Linked DNA regions of Homo sapiens. The protein of the gene in region 1 interacts with the protein of each later gene in a pairwise test. Each region holds a gene or a part of one and is shown in the gene's direction. Other genes may lie near its edges.

Evidence for each region. Proteins that work in one complex are often made in the same cells at the same time.
Region 2: the proteins of MEP1B (region 1) and IFITM1 interact in a protein complementation assay, tested with the Homo sapiens proteins (one study listed by IntAct).
Region 3: the proteins of MEP1B (region 1) and PRAP1 interact in a protein complementation assay, tested with the Homo sapiens proteins (one study listed by IntAct).

Annotation. Positions count from the first base shown.
Region 1 is NC_000018.10:32,213,821-32,221,401, forward strand, and holds the end of MEP1B (meprin A subunit beta isoform 1 precursor), read left to right. Parts: intron 1-1,261; coding exon 1,262-1,441; intron 1,442-3,170; coding exon 3,171-3,297; intron 3,298-3,940; coding exon 3,941-4,145; intron 4,146-6,410; coding exon 6,411-6,425; 3' UTR 6,426-6,584; downstream 6,585-7,581. UniProt on the Homo sapiens protein: Membrane metallopeptidase that sheds many membrane-bound proteins. Exhibits a strong preference for acidic amino acids at the P1' position. Known substrates include: FGF19, VGFA, IL1B, IL18, procollagen I and III, E-cadherin, KLK7, gastrin, ADAM10, tenascin-C.
Region 2 is NC_000011.10:308,960-316,267, forward strand, and holds IFITM1 (interferon-induced transmembrane protein 1), read left to right. Parts: upstream 1-5,080; 5' UTR 5,081-5,211; coding exon 5,212-5,397; intron 5,398-5,962; coding exon 5,963-6,154; 3' UTR 6,155-6,313; downstream 6,314-7,308. Other genes in the region: IFITM2 (interferon-induced transmembrane protein 2), read left to right, coding at 54-206.
Region 3 is NC_000010.11:133,342,329-133,350,867, forward strand, and holds the start of PRAP1 (proline-rich acidic protein 1 isoform 1 precursor), read left to right. Parts: upstream 1-5,044; 5' UTR 5,045-5,089; coding exon 5,090-5,097; intron 5,098-7,766; coding exon 7,767-7,833; intron 7,834-8,539. Other genes in the region: ZNF511-PRAP1 readthrough, read left to right, coding at 7,767-7,833. UniProt on the Homo sapiens protein: Lipid-binding protein which promotes lipid absorption by facilitating MTTP-mediated lipid transfer (mainly triglycerides and phospholipids) and MTTP-mediated apoB lipoprotein assembly and secretion.

The DNA of each region.
Region 1 (7,581 bases):
GTGCAAGAAGTGTTGGTTTTAGAGTCTGACATGCCTGAGTTCAAGTCCAAAGTTTGCTTCTCATTAGTTATGTAATCTTGAGCAAATAATCTCTTAGGGCCCCAGTGTCCTCAGCTGTAAAGCCAGGGCTGTAGTAATCATTCCACAGATTTGCTATGAGAATTAGTACAGGTCAAGTGTGGAAGCTGTGGAAAGGCCTGCGGTGGAGAGGCCCTCAGATGTTGGGTTCTTCTAACTCATGCTACCTTGTTCACGTCACTGGGATTGTCAAAAATAATTCAGCGTTTGAAATGGGGGTAGTTTTTGACCAGAAGGAAGGTATTGAGCAGGTGCATTCAAGTGTTGGTGGGAAGGGTATGAAAATGCATTATAATTTCTTAGTAAAAAGTTACAGAGGACTTGCTAATCATGACATCATTCCCCATCTTTCCCATCTCAAAAAGAAGCAACCCACTGAAAGCAAAGATCACACTACTAATTTTAATAATTCTTTGCTTCTGAGACCCTAGTAAAGGAAAAAATGGAATTATGGCAAGCTGAATAATTTTGCCAAATGTGAATTCTATATATGAAAAACATGGACCAAATCGACATAGAAAAAAATCCAACTTAATCTCATAGGAAAACAATAATATTCACCAATGGAATTGTAGGGACTTGACATTCAGAATTTCTTCACTTTTTCCTAAAGTGTTTCTTACTAAATGACATTAAAAACAGCTCAGGGCTGGGTAGGTCATTATCTTTTCCCAGAAGCAGTGCTTCTTGTTGTCTTCTACTTCTGAAGCACTTTGCTCTGTTAGGTGAATAATTCAGTTAATAAGATAAATCATCCTATGCTGATATTAAAAACTCTCTCAGCAACATATTGCTTTAACTGGACAATCTGTAACTTTGTAAAAGGACTCTCTTAGTAGCCTTGAAGCCTATTCTAAATTATTCTAATAGATAGGAGGGTTTCTATACTGGCCAATAAGTAAAGATATGATATTCCCAGGAATATCTGGTACCTAGGAAACTTCTGGTACCTCTCCACTCTTATTCTAGAGTGTGGTCCTCCCTGCCAGGCAATTTCATTTCCTCTAGGACAGTATAAATGAACAAGCCCCAGTGATTTGCCAGGGAATACATCACAGGTCAATAGCATCATTTAATTATTTTGAGTTCCAGCCTAATTGTGTTTCACATTGCCTGTTCTTTCCTACCACCAAAAGCTACGATGATGATAAACACACTCCATTAATATAAATTGCTTTTTCAGATAATGGAAACTATTTCTGGGACAGGCCTTCTAAAGTGGGAACAGTGGCTTTGTTCTCTAATGGAACTCAGTTTAGAAGAGGTGGGGGCTATGGAACCAGTGCCTTTATAACCCACGAAAGGCTGAAAAGCAGAGATTTTATAAAAGGAGATGATGTTTATATCCTACTGACAGTGGAAGGTATGTCAATAAAAATAGTTTTATATAAACTAGTTTTTTTTTGTTGTGGCCACTGATTATTTTCTGTTTTTCTTTCTGCATTCCACTTTTAGATGTATTATATAGAGATGTGGGGGGAATGGGCATGAATGGGGTTTGGGAGGAATATGAATTATTAACAATATGAAAATAATTTAATTTGAAACAGTGAGGATTCCAGAATAAAGAATTTAATGACCACCACATGAAGCTATAGCGGAAACCTTTAGGTTGGGAAATTTCTTTAGAAATAAGTTAAAATAGGCCGGGCGCAGTGGCTCATGCCTGTAATCCCAGCGCTTTGGGAGACCGAGGCGAGTGGATCACGAGGTCAGGAGATCGAGACCATCCTGGCTAACACGGTGAAACCCTGTCTCTACTAAAAACATAAAAAATTAGCTGGGCGTGGTGGCGGGCGCCTGTAGTCCCAGCTACTCGGGAGGCTGAGGCAGGAGAATGGTGTGAACCCGGGAGGCGGAGCTTGCAGTGAGCCAAGTTCGTGCCACTGCACTCCAGCCTGGGCCAAAGAGCGAGACTCCGTCTCAAAAAAAGAAAAGAAATAAGTTAAAATAGAACTATTATACCCTAGGATTCCTGAAATAAAAATATCACACAAGCACATGAAATTAAATGACTGGAAACGTCTGCATCTTACCTGTTTCAAATGTACATACATGCATACATATATGCATATATATATATATATATATATATATATATATATATATATATATATATATCTTGACAGAAATGACATTAATCTCTTGTTAGACTAATGTTAAATTTCTTACACCTGGCAGCCAATAAATACATTTTGCAGCAATTCTGGTGGTTTCTATTTTTTATGTGGTAGGATTTTAACTCATTTTCTATTAAAGACCCACTTGGATCTCAGTAAATCAGATTCTTGTTTGTGATGAAAGGTGGTGCAATTAAAACCCACAAAATTTTGACTCCAGTGTCCATTAGAGTAAATCTAGATGATACCTCTTGGAGAGATTATTCAGAAATAACTTCTGTTAAGAGAGAAAATATTTTATGTAGCAGAGAACAAAAATCAGTATGCATCAGTTCTCTTTGACCATAGCGATTTCAACCAGAAGCAATAACAAATACTGCAAAGAATGTAACACTGGTTGTCAGGGCACTTGGTGTCTTGCTCCAAATCTCCACCAATTTGCTCTACCAAGCCAGAGACCTGTGACCTTGGGCAATGCCCTCAATTACTTTACATTTCTGAGTTTTGGTTTCCTTATCTGTCTCTTGAAAGTTGGTATCAGTGGCTTGTACCCTTCTGGGCTCCCAGAATCCAGGCCAGCATGTGGTTGAGTTGGAGCCCCAGTAGGCTGGCCTAGTTTCCCTTTGCCTAGTTCTTATCTCGCTGCCTATGAATGTTGCTAGACTGTGCTTCAAGGATACCTGAATTTCTCACAAGCCTAAAATCTGATCATTGTCTATTCTGAAACTTAAGATTGGGCTTGGCATCATGGCTCACGCCTATAATCCCAGGACTCTGAGGCCGGAGTGGAAAGGCTGTCTGAGCCTGGGAGCAAAGACCAGCCTGGGCAACATTGCAAGATCTCACCTCTAAAAAAAAAAAAGAAAGAAAGAAAAAAGGAAAAAAGAAACATTAAAAGAAAATGAAAATTAAAGATCAAATGATTGTTAAACAAAAGCTGATTTCCATCCACACTCTTCCCCATCTTCCTAGACATATCTCACCTCAACTCTACACAAATCCAGCTAACACCAGCCCCTAGTGTTCAAGACCTCTGCTCAAAAACCACCTGTAAAAATGACGGTGTCTGCACTGTTCGAGATGGCAAAGCTGAGTGCAGGTAAGGATGATTTGAAAGAGATCTCTCCATTCTTTGGTTAGAAATTTTATTTCCATAATGTAGGATTAATTACTTAATAGTTCTTATGAATGAAATCAGTTGATTCTCATCTCACAGCCATTCATAGAATTTTTTTTTTATTCTCCTTTTGGGGCTTTGGATAACCTCAAGAACTATCTTTGTGATAGCCAACACAATTTTTTTATGAAAAAAATAGAACTCTATATTCTAATTGTCTGAAAAAGTCCTCATAACAGTCCAGTCATTTTAAGTGTAGCTGCCTCCATTTTCTAGATGAAGATACTGACGTTCTGAGGAGCCCTTGGCCAAGATGTGAATCTGGAGGGTGGCGGGCATGGGACACTGAGAACTAAACTTTCTCTGTTATCTGTGCTATCGGCCTTTCCTAACTTGGAGATACTGTTTTAGTATCAGATTAGGAGGAATTCCATTTTTTCTTTCCATTGTTTATACCTGTGCTCTAGGTGCTAGTCTCTCTCCAGTCCAGAGTGGGTAAAATAGTTTCATATAGCAATGACCTATTGGTGATCAAATAGACTAAAGGTGATCCACATCTTTAACTGTGAAGATTTCTGGAGTTAGATATCAACTAATAACTCTGAGTCATGCTCTCAACATGCAGGTGCCAGTCAGGGGAAGACTGGTGGTACATGGGAGAAAGGTGTGAAAAGAGAGGCTCCACCCGAGACACCATAGTCATTGCTGTTTCATCTACTGTTGCTGTGTTTGCCTTGATGCTGATCATCACCCTTGTCAGTGTCTATTGCACCAGGAAGAAATATCGTGAAAGGATGAGCTCAAATCGACCAAATTTGACTCCGCAAAATGTAAGTTGAGGCTGATGTTTGATTATTCATAACCTATTGGTGAAATCTTATGGAGAGGAACTAGGACATTTTTTATATACTTTGGTTCTTGCCTTCTTCTCTCTGTTTCCTATGCTGGGACAACTGATTTCAGATTATAAAAGTTCCTATTACTTTCACTGTAAATCAACGATTCTTAAACTGGGATTTATGGAGGTTCATTATCCTCCTGGAATTGTATACAACATTGTGTACAGTTGTGTGTGTGGGTTTTTTTCCTGGAGTGTGGGGTGGTCTGTGACCTGAAAGGCACAACTGATTTTGCCTGAAAGTTCAAACCTTCCTGGTAAAGGGAAGAGGTGGCCTGCAAGTGTTTTTGTTCTAAAGGTCTTGTAGTGGTGGTGAGCTGAGGCCATAGGAAGGGGATGCAGGCATGTTTGGGGAAGCTTTTTCATTAAAGAAGGTTCCAGTTCATTCTGGCTTCATGTGGAATAACTAATTCTAAGGCAAGTTTTCAAGTAAAGGATTTAAAGTCTTGCCTCAAAAAATCTCTAGAATGCTAATAGACTCCTGAAACGATCCTGTTTCCAGTGGGTCCCTTGGGAAGCTGACTCTGAGATGGATATTTGTACGCAGGAGGTTTATTGGGGAGGGCTCCTGGAACACGTATAATAGGCTGAGGGAGCTGGCCTGGGCAGAGGGTGAGGTTGGAATGTGATGTGGTTGCAGCTGAGGCCTCAGCCCATCCTTCAGGGAGCTCTGGAGTGGGGATGACTCCCTCTTAGGCACGTCCTGAATCGAGGGAGGGGGCCAGGCCTTTGTACTCCCATCACTGGAAGGGGGCTGCCCTCAAAGAGGGGGCATAAAATTGGGCAAGGCAACGGCCTTTGGGGGAGGGCATTTCTTGCATAACAGCCTTCATTCAAAGGGCAGGACAAAGCAGCAGTTCCCTAGCATCCACTACATACTCCAGCAGTAGAGTACAGAGTTTTACATGCAGATTCATATTCCTCTCAAAGAAGCACAGAGAAAGTGGCATAAAATCTGAGCATTACTTAAAAGTGAAGCCCTAAAATTCTTCCATTTCTATTTCATTCCAATTGGAGTCTCTGAAAATTGCTACTGAAGCCAGTCAGAAAAAATGCCCAATTAGAATATCTCCAAAAATAAAAATACTGCAATTGGCTAAAGCAAGAGTACATTTTCTTAAGAAAAACGATTATTCAAGACATACTATATTTAAAGCTACGAGTTTTTAAAGGGGACAGCCTGGTATCAAGTCAGTCAAAACATGAACAATGATAATGAACTGAAAGCAAATCGTTGTATTATCGTAGGCTGTTGTCCTATTTCCTCAACATCAGGAAGATGTTTAATGCTAATAATAAGGCAATAGATCAATTACTTCACAAAATTATTAGAAAAGTATTTAAAATATAAACAGGTTGTTTTGTTTTAAGACAACTTTCAGCTTATTTTATGACTCAAAATAAAAGGGGAAGATCAGTGAATACTTGGCCTGGTAGGTCAACCTGATGGCAGCTGTGCCTGCAAGTTCGGTCTCCTGGGCCATTGGGATGAGCCAGGAGTTGGTGCATGGAAGGTGGAAGAGTAGAAGGGCAGGAGGGGACAAGTTAACTGGGTGGATGGGATTGCCAGGATATTTCCCTGACAATGAATGGGTAGTGTAACAGCTGTTATAAGCAAGTATAAACTTGCTTAGCAAGTAAAAACTGGAAGGAGTTAAAGAAAAATGACAAAACCAAAGAGAAGAGAAAGAAGGAAGCTAGGAAGCTAAGTCAATAAAGCAGGGAAACCATGACAGTATTAGAGACATGGTAAGGATAGTAAGTGGAAACACACATGCACACACACACACACACACACTCCATAATATTACAACAGAGCTGTTTTGTTTCTGGGTCATTTAAACACATTCCTAAGGACAAGGCAGTTGACTTACATTATCTTAGGCTAGGCATTTCTACAGCTAATTCACTGGTAACAGATCTCCCAGATGTCGTTTAGATCTTAAATCAGAATGACCTTTTTTTCTGAGGCGAATGTATGTGTTCACCCTAATGTTTTAGCATCTGAATAATGTGGGCCCGAAAAGCCAGGGCTCGAAATGGAGACCAGGAGCAGGAGCCATTGCCAGCTAGGAGGGAGGCCAGGAGACTGCTGATGGGGACTTCATTTAAAGACCAGATCATTTTATTATGATTCATTTAAATAGCAGTTTTTAAATTTAGAAATTAAATCATCAATTGTTCTTTCCCCTTTTAGCAGCATGCTTTTTGAAGATTAACTCGACAATATGGCCAGCTAATGAAATTAAAAAGGATTCTTCATCATGGATTTCGCCTAAGTGATATTACAGCCACCTCATTCTTCTAAAAGTGGATATTTTTCTGTAAATAGCTGGAAATATTATAAATCACTATTTTGGTCAAAGTCAAATTGGTGAAATGCTGTTTGTGTTTCCTTCTTTTAAATGAGAGAAAAGCAATTCAGGCTCTTCTGGAAGTATAATATTGTCTAGAAAAAAGGGAGAGCAACAGTTAGAGATGGCTTTTCAAATTACTGATCCTTCCATATGGGGGCCAAGTGTGGTGTCCTCACAAGTGATTCCTTAGAAACCCACTAGAAACACCCAATGGGAATGATCATCCATGCAGAATCACAGCAGTTTCAGTGCCATCCTTTCCCAGCATTGGGAAGGGTAATGAGACAGCTCCCCACTCTCTGTCAATATACATTCTTCTCCAAAACTGGCTACTCTTGTTTTCTTATATAATCCCTTTGGTACATGAGCTTGGTTTAGAATTTGTTTGAGCATACGACTGTAATCAGCAAGAAAACCTTTCACTCTTTGAGTGGCAAGTCTCCAAGTTTTGGATCTCAGGAATCTTTACACTTTAAAAATTACTGAGGATCTCAAATAGGTTACTGAGGATCTCAAATAGATTACGGAGGATCTATTTTGCTTATGAGCAGTTCATTGATTTAAATAAGTGTTTATTAGAAATTCAAACCAGGAAAAACTTAATGTATTTATTAATCACAAAAAATAAGCCCCTTATATGCTAACATAAATATGAAAAGTCGCTATATTTTTCAAAACAGGAGAATATTTAGCAAAGAGAGGGGCATTGGTTTACATTTTTTGGGAAAATCTCTAATGCCTAGCTCAATAGAAGACAGCTGAGTTTTCACAGATGCTTCTGCATTTATTCTGTTGTGATATATTAATTTGTTTGAAGGATGTGAAGAAAATCTAACCTCACACAAATATGTACTTGGAAAAAGGAGGCATATTTGAATAGCTTTCTCAGGTAAATATGAATATTCTTTTGAAATAATTTTGTTAAAAGTTGACAATGGTAACTTCTTAAAGGTTAGTTGCAATCAAAATCCGAAACCATATCAATGAACTTTTGTATTCCGTCCTGTAAAA
Region 2 (7,308 bases), on another chromosome or scaffold:
ACGCGGCTCTCAGCTGGGGGATCCTGGTCCCCTCACCATCTCCTCTCCCCCAGTCTAGGGACAGGAAGATGGTTGGCGACGTGACCGGGGCCCAGGCCTATGCCTCCACCGCCAAGTGCCTGAACATCTGGGCCCTGATTTTGGGCATCTTCATGACCATTCTGCTCATCATCATCCCAGTGTTGGTCGTCCAGGCCCAGCGATAGATCAGGAGGCATCATTGAGGCCAGGAGCTCTGCCCGTGACCTGTATCCCACGTACTCTATCTTCCATTCCTCGCCCTGCCCCCAGAGGCCAGGAGCTCTGCCCTTGACCTGTATTCCACTTACTCCACCTTCCATTCCTCGCCCTGTCCCCACAGCCGAGTCCTGCATCAGCCCTTTATCCTCACACGCTTTTCTACAATGGCATTCAATAAAGTGTATATGTTTCTGGTGCTGCTGTGACTTCACCTGGGGAGCGGTCCTGCTGGTTCTGAGATTAAATGTAATGCCAAACGTTCTTGCCTTAGCCACACCAAAGAATTGGGTGTGGCGGCTGCCCGCGGCGAGTGATGGAGACACAGACCAAGAGAAGAAAAAAACTGTAGGTTTTATTGAGCAGAGTGACAGTACAAAGCTTACACAGCATGGAAGGGGTCCGGAGAGGGTAGCCACTGTTGGTTTTGGGTGATTGCCTTTTAATCTCTTTAAGGCGGGAAATACATGTGGTGGGAAGATGTTACCAGAGAGAGAAACAAAGGCAGTAAATTATTTTGTGACATGTCTTAGATTTTGAGGAAAAACAGAATTGCAACTTAGGTTTTATCTAATTTTATCTACTTTATGACCTTGCAGCAGCATGGCAAAAGAGACAGGATTTTACAGGACTTTACAAAGTATGTTCACAAGGAATTGGAATTGGGAGCATAGATAAGGTCCGCTGGTCACAGAAAAAGGGTCTTTTAACATTCCTTTTAGTTTTAGGGGAGGGGGAAGGAAGAGAGGGAGAGAGGACACAGGGAAGCTTACAGCAGAATTTTTGCTGTTTATAGCTTTCTTGGGGAAGGAAACACATGCACAAATCCTGGTGTTAGGAATATTTTAGGCATGTATCTTCAGTACTCTTCATCCAGGACCGAAGTAAGTCCTGATGCAGGAAATGAGTGTTTCACAGCTTTCTGAACCCCTACTCGACCCAGGAAGCCCAGCTGGACCCTCCTTTCATGAGCAGGTTGGTCAGCCCCTGCACTGCCCCTTCCAGCCTCTGTGCATCTCTTGGGGACGGGGCAAGTGCTCAGGCCTTCTGGTTTCGGGCCTCCTGCCGTGAGCAGCAGCTGGATCCAGGACCCTGGGAGGAGTTCCTGTGTCCTGCAGGTCTCAGCTCCTACTCAACGTGGGCTCTTTCCGGGAACGTCAGTGCTGAGTCCGGGACACCCTGGGCCCAAGGCCACGCTCGCGGCCTGTCGGCAATCCAGGCTGTCGGCTCAGGACAGAGGGAAGGGTTAAGCCCCCAGCAGGGCCAGGGAGGGGCAAGGTGGCACCGGCTCCCCAGCTGCTCCCAGGCCCTGCTCTGTGGTGCTGGGGACCTGGCTTTAGTTCCTCGGGGGTGGAGGGGGCACCGCGCTGCCTGCCTCCGAGCTGTCTGGAGCAGCCAGTCCTGCAGATGTGGGCAGCTCAGGGCCCGTGGGAGGGAGGGGGCTTTGTGCCCAGGGCAGCAGCTGAAGGAGCCCCGGGCCTCGCAGCCCCTCCTGGGTGACCAGGTGCTGCTTCGTGGCAGCTGCCCCCTCCCGTCCAGCGGGTATGGGCCCTGCTCCCCCGTGGTGGGGGCGGCGCAGGAGAGTGGAGCGACCCTCATCTAAGTTACCTCTACCCGGGTCTGAGCCCCCGGACAGACACCCCCGCCCCGACCTGGTTACAGCGCCCTTCCCCGGTTCGGTCTCCGGTGTGCGCATGTGGGGTGCCCCATGGGCGGCCGCGGTGGGAGCTGGGGTGGCCATGCGCGCCCCCGCCCCGCCGTCCACCCGCGACTCCAGGTCTGGATCTACTCGCCCTCCCCACCCTTTCCCGCCCCCAGCCCCGGAGCCGCGCTCTCACCCCAGGGGCGGCAAGGGCGATGGACGCGGAGGAAGCGCCCTCTCCCCCTCGGGGGTCTCCCGGAGGCGAGTCCCGAAGGGGGCGAACTCCGAAGTGGGTCCCGGGTGGGAGGCGCGCGGCCCCGCCCGGCGGGGAGGGGGAAGCGGCGGAGGCGGGTGCTCAGCGGCGCCCCTGGCGGCGGCCGGCGCAGGTGCAGGTCCCGGAGGAGGCTCCGCCCGCAGCCCAGACCCCCGCGGGGTGGGCGGGACGCGGACCCTGAGACCCGCAGCGCCGGACCCGGACGGGAGCCCCTCTCCTCCCCCTCGGGCACGTCCCCGGCCGAGCCTTCCCGCCCTCCTCTGGGGCTCCCACCTCCCCTTCACCCGCGGGGGACCCGATTTCCGCGTCTCCTGGGCCCCTCCCTGGGCAGGGGGTCCAGCCGGAATCCAGGAGTGACCTGCTGGAGGACTTGGTGGCCAGGGAGTCACCCTGGGAGCCCGGTCCTGTGACCCCTTAATGGATTCTCTGCGCTCCTGGGCGGGCCCCTTGGTCGCATCGGGGCAGGGGAATCGCAATAAGGAAAGTGTAATTCACGCAGAGCCGGCTGCGGGGGAGACGGGAGTTTTATTATTACTCAAATCCTTCTCCCCAAAAACGTGGGGATCCGAGTTTCGAAGGATGATATGGTGGGTAGGCGGCCAGTGAGTCAGGAGCGCTGACCGGTCCGGTTGGAGATGAAGTCTTGGGGAGTCGAAGCTGTCTTCCCAACCCTAACCCAGCTCCTCGGTGGGGGCCACAGGACCACATGAGCAAGATTGTGGATTTAGGTGGTGCCAGCTGATCCATTGAGTACAGGGTCTGTAAAGTATCTCAAACTCTGATCCTAGGTTCTACAGTAGTGCTGTGATCCCCGGGAGCAATTTAGGGGTGGCGGGGTCAGAATCTTGCATCCTCCAGCCGCGTGACTCCTAAACCATAATTTCTAATCTTGTGGCTAATTTGTTAGTCCTGCAAAGGCAGTCTGGTCCTCAGGTAGGAAGGGGGCTTGTTCAGCCTTGATCTATAAACTGTTTCTCTCCAGATTAGTTTAGGCTAAGCCCAGGGATGAGCAAGGGCAGCTTGGAGGTTAGAAGCCAGGCGGAGTGGGTTAGGGTCAGACCTCCTTCACTGTCATCATATTCTCAGTTATGACTTTTGCAAAGGTGGTTTCAGTTCCATGCCTGCCCCTCAGAATCCTGTCTCCCTCTTGTGCCCTGCAGTTTCTTCCTTCCTAAACTGCCCGTGATTTAAAGAAGCTTCCAAAATACCTTCCACGGGAAATTCAAGCCCCACCCCACTCCGCAGTGATGTGTGGCCTTTGATAGGAGGTCACAGAGCCTTGTGAGGAGTTTGTGTAGGCAGTCCTCGATGTCTCAGAGCACGCTCCATCCACATCCACCCCTGGCTTGCCGGGACCCAGACATAGTTTGGTCTAAGTGGCCTGGGATGTGGCTGGGGCTGGAGGCGGCCTGTTGAGGGGTGGGTGGAGGGTGGGGGGGTTGGTGTGCGATTTGGGGAGGCCCAGCAGGGACTCCAAGCAAGGGCAAGGGCTAGTTCTTTTTTTTTTTTTTTAGCTGCAATGGGTAGGGAGGGGCTGATGGTTTTGGAGCTCGGTGTTTGAGATGTTAAGTCTGCTGATGCTCCTGGCCGAATAAAGGCCAAATAAAGCCCTTTCTTTCCTCAACTCGATGTCTGAGGGTTTTGTCTGTGGCTCGTCCTGCTACAATTTCTAACGTTACCAGTAATTTTAAAGCTAGCTTATTAAAGATTCTACTTAAGTCACATGAACGTGAAAAGCATTTAGGCTTATTATTTAATTTATGAGTACTCTTTAAGTTTAAGCTAAATTTGGTAACTTGTGGCCAAAAACACATAACGAAATATGTGTATGTGCACATATACACACATACACACTCAAGCAAAAGTATGGTTTTACTTCAGAACTCCAGCCATGAGATAGTAATACAAATTCATTGGTTTACACAAACAATAAAAAGAAATGGTTGGATGCAAACAGTGGATTTTATCTCTGTAGAAAAGTAACAGCAGACTTAAAGCAGGCAGAAACGAAAGCAGAAAGAGAACTTAAGAACATTACATTAATAATTGCAGGCCCACCTTTGGGCTCTGATTTTTCCTTTATGTAATTTGCAATTTGTAATTCATGATCCTTGTGCCTGAGGGCTCCCTTCTGCTACTCAGTCTACAATTCCCCGTCCCTGTGAAGGGGCACCCAGGCCTGACAGCCCCAGACTTGGCTTTGCCAACCCTCCAGGTCTCTCCTGCATGGCTAGGACCCAACGCCTAGGTCATCCAGCACTCACCCCAACCAAAGCCATGGGAATTGCTGGGACCCGGAAGGTAGGGGGTGGCACATGTGTGCCCTGTGCTCTGAAGCTGCCCCTACAGGCCCTGGAATCCTCCCCGTGTCTCAACACACTACCCTCTGGGGAGTCAGTTCTCCCCAGAGTCCCCGTTCCTGGGCCTGGAGGGCTGCTTTGGGGCAGGAAACTTTGGCCACCAGGCCTCTGACCTGCACCAGGAGACACTGGGAGGTTTAGTCCCCAAACCCGCACAGAGCAGGACTGCAGCCTGAGGAAAGAGCAAGGATTTCAGGAGAGAGGCCTGCGACAAGTGAGGTGAGGGCTTTTGGGGGATTGTCCTGGCGCCTGGAGTGTGGGGGCCTGGCAGGGGCCCTGAACCGGGACAGTGAGGTCCTGTACTTGCTGGCCTGGGGTGGACAGAACCCAAGCCTGGGTAAAATCCCCAGGGCCCCCTAAACCCAACACTTAGGAAGTCACTAGTCCTGACTTGAGTTTCTGATGAGGAAGCCTCTCTCCTTAGCCTTCAGCCTTTCCTCCCACCCTGCCATAAAGTAATTTGATCCTCAAGAAGTTAAACCACACCTCATTGGTCCCTGGCTAATTCACCAATTTACAAACAGCAGGAAATAGAAACTTAAGAGAAATACACACTTCTGAGAAACTGAAACGACAGGGGAAAGGAGGTCTCACTGAGCACCGTCCCAGCATCCGGACACCACAGCGGCCCTTCGCTCCACGCAGAAAACCACACTTCTCAAACCTTCACTCAACACTTCCTTCCCCAAAGCCAGAAGATGCACAAGGAGGAACATGAGGTGGCTGTGCTGGGGCCACCCCCCAGCACCATCCTTCCAAGGTCCACCGTGATCAACATCCACAGCGAGACCTCCGTGCCCGACCATGTCGTCTGGTCCCTGTTCAACACCCTCTTCTTGAACTGGTGCTGTCTGGGCTTCATAGCATTCGCCTACTCCGTGAAGGTGCGTATGGCCCTGGCGGAAATCCAGGGGGTGCCGGTGAGCCTGGGGCTCCACCTGCCCACATGCTGCCTGGGGTGGGGACTTGTGTGTCCCTGTGACTGTGAGTTTGTGTGCACCTCTGCCCCGTGTGTGCTCACGTCAGTAGCTTTGTCTGTGTGATCTGTGTGTGTGTGTGGCTTTGGGGAATCTGCCCAGTGCAGGTCTAGGAGGAGGCTCCAGGAGGCTGGCTGGCTGGCTCAGAGTCTGTCCCTGGCTATCCATTAGCCCAGAGCAATTCTCCCTATAGCCCAGTAAGAAATTACACCCTCACCTTCCAGACTGGCACCCAGGCTCTCCCAGAAAGTGAGAAGGGAACTCACAGGTGACTTCACCCCATGGTGGGGAGAACAGCCTGTGCTGGGGCCAAGGCAGAAGGAGGATGAGCCCCGAGGCTCCTGGAGAGTCTGAGCCCGGGTGAGGAAGGGGAGGAGGTGGTCCCTGATCTCAGGGCGGGGAGGAGACGGAGCCATAGCACGCGGCTCTCAGCTGGGGGATCCTGGTCCCCTCACCATCTCCTCTCCCCCAGTCTAGGGACAGGAAGATGGTTGGCGACGTGACCGGGGCCCAGGCCTATGCCTCCACCGCCAAGTGCCTGAACATCTGGGCCCTGATTCTGGGCATCCTCATGACCATTGGATTCATCCTGTTACTGGTATTCGGCTCTGTGACAGTCTACCATATTATGTTACAGATAATACAGGAAAAACGGGGTTACTAGTAGCCGCCCATAGCCTGCAACCTTTGCACTCCACTGTGCAATGCTGGCCCTGCACGCTGGGGCTGTTGCCCCTGCCCCCTTGGTCCTGCCCCTAGATACAGCAGTTTATACCCACACACCTGTCTACAGTGTCATTCAATAAAGTGCACGTGCTTGTGATGATGCTGTGACTTCATCTGGAGTGGGGGCCCTGCTGAGGGGTCCCGGCCTAGTCCTGAGACAGCCCAGTGCTCAGCCCCTGCACAGCCGTATCCCTCCTCTGTGAAGCTCTCAGGGGAGCAGGGATATGCTCAGAATCTGCTGGTTTCCGCCTCCTGCTGTGGGCAGCATCTGGACCAGGAACGTGGGGTGGGCATTTCTCTGACACCAAGGTAAGGACACACTGTCCAGAATACCTTTGGGCCAGGACAACCTGCCTCTGAGCTGGCTGGGCAGCTGGTCTTGCAGATGTGTGCACCTTAGGCCCTGTGGGAGGGGCAGGGGCTTTGTTCCTAGGGTAGCAGCTGAAGGAACCTCAGGGCTGCAGCCTCTCCTGGGTGATCCAGGTGTGCTGGATCCTAGCAGCTGCCTCCTCCAGTCCAGCCGGCATCTTCCCTGCTCCCCTGGGGTGGGGGCAGCCAATGGCCCGAGGGTGGGGCGCTCGCGAGGGCCTGGGAGGGCAGCTTCCGACCGGGAGCCCCGCGGGAGCTCGGGAAGAGGGTCCCGCCAGGTGGAGACCCCTCTGGTGCAGCCAGCGAGGGCCCCGGGATCCCGCAGTCTTGAAATGTGACGGGAAGTCCGAGGCATCACGAAGTCGGAGACGCAGGGCGCGTCGTGGGTCCCGGGCGCCGAACGCCAGCTCGCCACGGCCCAGCAGCGCGGCCAGATCCCGGTCCCCACGGGCGTCGGGGGTGCGCGGGCCGCGGGGAGGTGAGAGGCGGGAGCCGAGAAGTTTCCCAGACGGCACCCGCGGGAGCAGAGCTGGTCGGCCTGGCCGCTCCTCGCCGCGGACTCCTCGGGTGCCCGTGGACAGCAGCCCGTGCCAGGCCCGCAGCGGCCTTGGGCCTCTCCTCCTCTGCAGGGGAGACTCCGGCCGCGGGCTCTGGAAAAGGGCAAGACCAGGCACGGCGCAGGTGCTCTCTGTCGGGAGAATGCGGCCACGCGCGGTGCGTTCA
Region 3 (8,539 bases), on another chromosome or scaffold:
CTTTTCTTTCTTTTTTTTAGTTTTATTATTATTTTTTTGAGATGGAGTCTCACTCTGTCAACCAGGCTGGAGTGCAGTGGTGCAGTCTCATCTCACTGCAACCTCCGCCTCCCGGGTTCAAGCGATTCTCCTGCCTCAGCCTCCCTAGTAGCTGGGACTATAGGCGCCTGCCACCACACCCAGCCAATTTTTGTATTCTTAGTAGAAACGGGGTTTCGCTATTTTGGCCAGGGTGGTCTCGAACTCCTGACCGCGAGTGATCCTCCCGCCTCGGCTTCCCAAAGCGCTGGAATTACAGGCGTGAGCCACTGCACCTGGCCCTTTATTTTTAATTTTTAAAAAGTTTTAATTATTATGGGTACATAATAGGTATATATATCCATGGGGTACACGGATGCCATATGTAATGATCAAACCAGGATAATTGGGGTATCCATAACCCCAAGATTGTATCATTTCTTTGTGCTAACATTCTAATTCCACTCTTTTTTGTTAATTTAAAATATACAACAGGCTAGTCACAGTGGCTCATGCCTGTGGTCCCAGCACTTTGGGAGGCCTGAGTGGGAGGATTGCTTGAGCCCAGGAGTTCGAGACGAGCCTGGGGACCTCGTCTCATTTTACTAAAGACTAGATGTTTTAGATAATATATTGCAAACATTTTGAGTTCTGATATTTTCTCCCAAGGGTTGTTGTTGCTGTTTTGTTGAAATCTGTGGACTTTGTTTCCCCTGTAGCACGTGGCCTGGTGTCTCCGCCCAGTTTTTTAAGCCTATCTTCCTTGAGTCACACTGGGTTGTGTGGTTGGAGGCTGTGCTCAGGCCGCGGGACCCACTCTGCTGGTGCCTCAAGGGTGGGCTGGGGGCCACGCTCTGTGTGGATGCAGTTTTTAAGGTGCCCGACCTTTACTTCCCACCGGCTGTCTCCCGTCTCCTGAGTGTGAATGCACAGACTTGTGTTGGGCCAGAGGAATGGGGAGGTCAGCTGGGACTGTGTGGGAACCTGGGGAGGCTCCCTGTGCCTTTCTCATTCCAGACCTGATCACCCCATTCAAGTTCGGGCTGGCCTGCCAATCACTGCTCATAATCCCCTTGGGGACCCCAGTTCCCTGAGCCACTGGCCTTCTGCTGCCTCCCCCGTGGAGCCACTCGGCCACTGAGGGGTGGGTGGGAGTGTAGCTGCCCAACAGGCTCATTCTGCTTGCTGCCCAGAGAGAGCCGATTTATCAGGGCAGAGAGAAACTGCAACACGGAAAGTTTAATTCACGCGGAGCCGGCTGAACGGGAGGCTGGAGCTTTATCACTACTCAAATTTTAAAGGATAATTTGGTGGGTAGGGGTTGGGAAGCAGGGAGTGCTGATCGGTTGGGTTGCAGATGAAATCACAGGGAGTCGAATCTGTCCTCTTGTGCTGAGTCACTTCCTGAGTGGGGGCCACAAGACCAGGTGAGCCAGTTCATGGATCTGGGTGGCACCAGCTGTTCCACCAAGTTCAGAGTCCGAAAAATGTCTCGAGCACCAATCTTAGGATTTACAATAGTGATGTTTTCCCTAAGAATAATTGGGGAGGCTTAGAATCTTGTGGCCTCCAGCTGCCTGACTCCTTTTTTTTTTTTTTTTTTTTTTTTTGAGACGGAGTCTCGCTCTGTCACCCAGGCTGGAGTGCAATGGCGTGATCTCTGCTCACTGCAAGCTCCGCCTCCCAGGTTCAGGCCATTCTCCTGCCTCAGCCTCCCGAATAGCTGGGACTACAGGCGCCTGCAACCACGTCCGGCTAATTTTTTGTATTTTTAGTAGAGACGGGGTTTCACCATGTTAGCCAGGATGGTCTTGATCTCCTGACCTCGTGATCCGCCTGCCTCGGCCTCCCAAAGTGCTGGGATTACAGGCGTGAGCCACCGCGCCCGGTCCTGCCTGACACCTAAAACATAATTTCTTTTTTATTTTTCATGAAAGCCACTGACTTTCTTGATCTAAAAAACTTTACAAGGACAGTGACTGTTCTGCCAAAAAAGGAGCCAAATAGTATCAAATGGACTGAAAGTGAGGGTGGAGGTGAGGGACGGGGCCAGGAATCCATTCAGGAAAGCTGGTAACTGTCACCAGGGAAAGTGAAAAAGGAAGGGGGAGACATGCAAGAGTGAGAGTCCAAAAAAGTTGAAATGGTTAGGGGAGAAAACTCCCAAAAGACCCAGAGTGCGTCAGACGTGAGTATGACAATAGCAATCTTCTCCTTTGTAGAGGACAGGGGAGGAGTCCCGACTCGGCTACAAACTCTGGGTGAGGGCTGGGGATTGAGAGCTTCCTGGAGAGCATCACAAGAAGGCATCGCATGCTCTCGAAGGCATCCGAAGTCCCGGGACTGCTTGGTGTTGGCACCACGAGTCCTTTGGCCATTCCCGGAACAGGTCTTCATCTTTCCTCAGCACCAGAAACTGGCCAAGGACAACATAGGCCTTGTCAAAGCCCCTTTCCTCCAGCTTCTTGCCCAGGACTTCACCAATCCTGGCCAGGCTCCCCACTAGCTTTTCCCCCATGGGCTCTGCCCTGAAGTCTCGGTGCTTTTGGGAGGTTGGCATCTTGATCAGGCTTAATCGGCAACTTCAGTTCCCGTAACGGTTCCTCCCGCCACCCGGCCGCTCCGGCCGATACCTCAAGCCACTAGAAGTTTCCTAAACCATAATTTCTAATCTTGTGACTAATTTGTTAGTTTTACAAAGGCAGTCTGGTCCCCAGGCAAGAAGGGGGTTTGTTCAGGAAGGGGCTGTTTTCATCTTTGTTTCAACATTAAACTATAAACTAAGATCCTCCCAAAGTTGGTGTGACCTACACCCAGGAATGAACAAGGACAGGTTGGAGGTTAGAAGCAAGGTGGAGTCGGTTAGGTCAGATTCACTATCAGGTTTTCGCAAAGGTGGTTTCAGGAGCAGCCCCAGGCAAGAAGGCCAGAGGAACATCTGTTCTCACCCAAGCCCAGCGGCTTCTTCGGGTGACCCCTCCTCAATAGCTCAGACGCTGTGGGTCACGTTGGAAATTCCTGAGTTGGCCTTTCTTGAGGGCCCTCACTCCACCCCCTTGGAAGCACGGCCTCCAATTGTGTCTGAACATGCAGCTTCGGGAGAACCATACCCTGCAGGCCGGCGGTCTCAGAGCCCCCAACAGTAGCTGCCCGCTGGGGGTTGTCGAGGAAAAGAGTGAAACCCTGTAAAATACTTGGAGAGTGATTCTGAGCCAAATATGAGTGACGGAAGGCCCATGATGCCGTCCCAGGAGATCCTGAGAACATGTGTGGCCCGAGAGGGTTGGGGTGCAGCTGGTTTGATACATGTTCGGGACACGAGACATCACTCAGTACGTGGGAGATGTACATGGGTTTGGTCCAGAAAGGCGGCGGGTGTCCAGGTCATTGGTGGATTCAGTAATTTTCCAATTGACAATTGGTCAAAAGAGTTAAGTTATTATCTAAAGACCTAGAATCAATAGAAGGGAAAGTCAGGGTTAAGATAAGGTGTTGTGGAGACCAAGTATATGCAGATAGAATCAATAAAAGGGACTATTTCTTGTCAGAGTCTGTTCTATTAGTCTTAAGGTCTCTGTTTTAATGTTAATGCTGGTCAGTTTTGCCTGAATTCCAAAAGGAGGCGGGTACAATGAGGCCTGTCTGACCCCCACTTCCCATTATGGCCTGAACTAGTTTTCAGGTTAACCGTGGAATGCCCTGGGCTTAGGGAGGGTCCATCAGTCGGGTGGGGTCAGGCGGAGATTGGAATTGTGTTTTTGTTTTACAGGGTGTGCCAGGGACGGCTAAAGAAGGTGGTCAGGGCCGGGCGCAGTGGCTCATGCCTGTAATCCCAGCACTTTGGGAGCCCGAGGCAGGCGGATCACTTAGGTCAGGAGTTCGAGACCAGCCTGGGCAACATGGCGAAACCTCGTTTCTATTAAATATACAAAAATTAGCTGGGCGTGTTGGTGCACACCTGTAGTCCCATCTACTCAGGAGGCTGAGGCGGGAGAATCACTGGAACCCAGGAGGCGGAGGTTGCAGTGAGCTGAGATCGCGCCACTGCACTCCAGCCTGGGTGACAGAGTGAGACTGTCTCAAAAAAAATAAAATAAAAAAGGCAATGAGGGCACTGGGCCCCGTGGAGCGGGCCCTGGCCACACAGCGTGCAAGACTCCTCAGGCTGGTGTGCCCAGTAAGGAAGGACAGGAGGGAGCGCCTGGAAGGGGTGGGGAAGGTGGTGGCGTTGGGGGTGAGGGTTCCACGGTGGTGGAGCTGAGCTGGTCCCGCCCTGCCGCAGGTGGTGGGCAGGGGCAGGTGTGACAGGCAGGTGGGCTGGGGCTGGATGGGGGATTTGTCACGCCCACCTGAGGAAGGAAGTGCTTCAGCTGAGCTGGGGACAGCTGCCCACGACACCCTTCCAAGTTGCCTTGGTTGTGAGCACGGTTCAGCCTTCATGACAAGCAGGTTTTTTTTTTTTGGTGTTGTTTTGTTTTGTTTTGTTTTTTGACTGAGTTTCGCTCTTTGTTGCCCAGGCTGGACTGCAGTGGCGCAATCTCGGCTCACTGCAACCTCCGCCTCCCAGGTTCAAGCAATTCTCCTGCCTCAGCCTCCTGAGTAGCTGGAATGACAGGAGCCCACCACCACGCCCACTTAATTTTTTTTATTTTTAGTAGAGACGGAGTTTCACTATGTTGGCCAGGCTGGTCTCAATCCCCTGACTTCAGGCAATCCACCTGCCTCAGCCTCCCAAAGTGCTGGGATTACAGGTGTGAGCCACCGCGCCCGGTCAACAAGCATGTTTTTAAAGGCAAATTTCTTCCTCAGTCGTGTGGCAGGCCCTGAGCAGGCAGCTGGGTGTCCCCGCTCAGATCCAGGCCCGAGTGGGCTGGGCGGCTGCAGAGCCAGTCACCTGAGCTACCCAGGGTGGGATCCCTGGCCCCGACCTCTGTCCTGACACGCCCCAAGCGGCAGCAACAAAGCCCCAATTGGCCTGGGCCTGGGCAGGAGGAGCTGGGCCGGGTGCCAGATACTGGGATCAGCCACTGCAGCTCCCTGAGCACTCTCTACAGAGACGCGGACCCCAGACATGAGGAGGTAATGCCACCATCCCTGAGCCCCAATCCCCACCCCACCCAAACCTGGAGGCCTGGCCCTTAGCCAGAGGGGGCCCAGCTGTGCTGCGCTCCAGGGGGCCTGGTTCAGGGGAGTGTGCGGGTGGGAGGGAGAAGGAGGGGCCCTCTGAGGGTCTGGGGTCTGCCACCAGGCTCTACCTCCTCTGTGGCCCCGAGTGCACTTGCCTCTTGGTTCCCCTGGCCTGGTGGAGAATCACCCAGGGACCCCCACCCGGAACAAGGAAAGGGGAGGTGCCAGGCTGAAACCAGCAGGCCTGTGACTGCCCAAAAGGAAGGGGGCTGGGGGAGGGGAGGGGCTGGGGCGCAGGAGCCAGGGGCTGCCCTGAGGTGGTGTCACCCTGGGAGCTGTGATCTGGAGCTCAGGGAAGCACCCGGGCTCCCGCTGGACCCTGGAATCAGAGGCTGCCTTCCTTCTGTGGGGGTGTCTGTCTTCCCCCTCCTTGTGTGGGGGACCCCTCTCCCCGCTCCTGTGGAGGTGCCCTCCTCCTCTTCCCCCTCCTCTAAGCCAGGGCCCTCCCTGCCCCTCCTCTCCTGGTGTTTCTCCCTTGTAGAGAGGTGGCTTCTGGGTAGCTTGGGGACCCTTTGGTGCCCAGAGCCGTTTGCCTGGAGAGGGGACCCACGGGGATCCCACAGCCAGGCTGCTTGGCAGTCACCACCGACCACCTTTCTAGGGGCTACCGTGACCCGAATCCCAGGCCCCCAGGCTGTGTGTCATGGGAGGTGGGCACCAGGGGTGGCCCAGGCAGCACGGCAGTGGGATTGGGGTCCAGTGCCCAGACAAGAGCCCCTGCCCAGCATCAGAACCAGCTGGGGGTCCTGAGGAGAAGCAGGGCCCCCGAACCAGACCAGACCAGGTCCCGGCCCCGGGCTGTCCGGGGCATCCCCCCTGCCCTTTGACCTCTCACCATGGCTGAGTCACCCAGAGAACGGGCAAAGGTCCCTGTGGAGCTGCAATCCAGGCCTGCAGGGTGTCCCAGACACTGATTCTTCTGCCTCAGCAGGAGTAGCTGCGATTACAGGTGTGTGCCACCACCCCCAGCTAAGTTTTGTTTTTTTTTTTTTGAGACAGAGTGTCTCGCTCTGTCGCCCAGGCTGGAGGGACTGCAGTGGCGCCATCTTGGCTCATTGAAACCTCCACCTCCCAGGTTCAAGTGATTCTCCTGCCTCAGCCTCCCAAGTAGCTGGGATTACAGGCACCTGCCACCACGCCTGGCTAATTTTTTTTTTTTTTTTTTTGTATTTTTAGTAGAGACAAGTTTTCACCATATTGGCCAGGCTGGTTTCGAATGCCTAACCTCAAGTGATCTGTTGCCTCAGCCTCCCAAAGTGCTGGGATTACAGGCGTGAGTCACCGTGCCCAGGCAGTTTCATATTTTTAGTAGAGACGGAGTTTTGCCATGTTGGCCAGGCTGGTCTCAAACTCCTGACCTCAGGTGATCTGCCCACCTCAGCCTCCCAAAGTGCTGGGATTATGGGTGTGAACCACTGCGCCTGCCCCAGACACCCTTGACTGCAGCCCTGCTGAGCCCTGTACAGACCCAGAGCCCCGCCCCACCCCAAGACCACCCCACCCTGACAGACGCAAGCCTCCCCCGCAGGGCCCTGAAGAGACAAGTCTGCACCACATCACACACGCACGCACACACAGACACACTCCCAAACCCTCACACTCTACACACCACACACGCATGCACACAGCACACACCCACCCCCAAACCCTTACGCTCCACCCCACACACAACATACATACACATCCAACACATACATGCACACACAGCACACACACACACCCAAGCCCACACACTCCACACCACACACAACATACACACACATCCACCACACACAAACACACATAACATACACACACAGCACACGCACCCCCGAACTCACACACTCCGCACCACACACAACATACACATGCACCACACACTGAAGCACACAGTGCACACACACCCGAACACGACACCACCCACAGCATACATGCACACCCACCATGCACATGGTCCACACCCACAAAACACACATGCACAGACAACATATGCACACCCCCCACCACATACACAAACACACACATCCCGTGTCCGAACTGACCTGACACCCTGCCTGCCTGCCTAATAGTGCTGCCATTCACCCCTGAGCCCCCCAGCCGTGGCCCCGCAGCTCTGGGACACAGCAGGTGCCCTGCCTGCAGCAGCGTGCAGCCTCAGGGCTCTGTGGGCGTGGGGCTGTGGGCCCTCGCTGCTCCATACCCACCCATACCCACACCCATGTGCAAGTGTGTTCATGTGTGTCCCCACGTGGAGGGCGGCACAGAGGCATGGCAGAACCTCTGGAGTTTCCAAGCCAACCACCAGTGCCTGCCACAGTGGGGTCTGCCCAGACTGTGAGGAGCAGAGTCTGGGGCTGGGGCTGTGGGCTCTGGCCTGAGGGGGGCTGGAGGCAGGTGGGCCTGGGGCTTCTCCCTGTTCTGTGCCTGCGTGTCTTGGCCCATGTGAGCACAGTCCAGTAAAACTACCTGCGCTCCCAAGGAGGAACCCAGCCCAGGCCTCCCAGCTGCCCATCAGGGTGCTGCCTGGAGTTCAGGGCGTCCCCTTCCCCTACCTCACACTTCCCTCTCTGGCCCCCCCTCAGGCTCCTCCTGGTCACCAGCCTGGTGGTTGTGCTGCTGTGGGAGGCAGGTGCAGTCCCAGCACCCAAGGTAGGTGTGAGCCCCTCCCATCTGGGCAGCAACTCCAGTTGTCACCTTCTGCCCCTACAGCAGGGGATGTGGACAAAGGGCCCCTCTTCTGGCTTCAAACCCCAAGCTGGCTTAGGGGAGAGAGGCATGGGTACGCTCATGACTCTTGATGCCTGTGCAGGCATGAGGAGGGGGCAGGCTTCCCTTCCCTGGGGTCAGATGGACAGGCCTCAAGACACCCAGGTGGTCCTAGGTGGATGATGTGGGTCCAGATGAGCCCACATGACCCCAGGTGGACGAGGTGGGTCCAGATGAGCCCCCGTGACCCCAGGTGGAGGAGGTGGGCCCGGATGACACCCACGTGGTCCCAAGTGGAACAGGTGATCCCAGATGAACCCATGTGACCCAGGTGGAGGAGGGCCCGGATGACACCCCTTGATACTCACCTGGGCCTTGAAGGCCAGAGGTGACTCCATGTGCTAGTGGCTCAGCTGCACTGTCTGTGCTGACAGTGGTGTCCTCAGCCGGGACTATGCCTGGGGACGGGCCCTGTTCCCTGGCCCATGTCAAGGCCACACAGTCTTGCACACCTGGGATGGATCGGGAGGAAGGAGGCCCACGCCTTCCTTGACTGGAGACGCAGGAGCATGGGCACAGCCCCCCCACGGTGCTGGTCCTCCCCTGGAGCCACTGGTCCTCCCCTGGGGTCACCTGCTTTGCTCTCCTG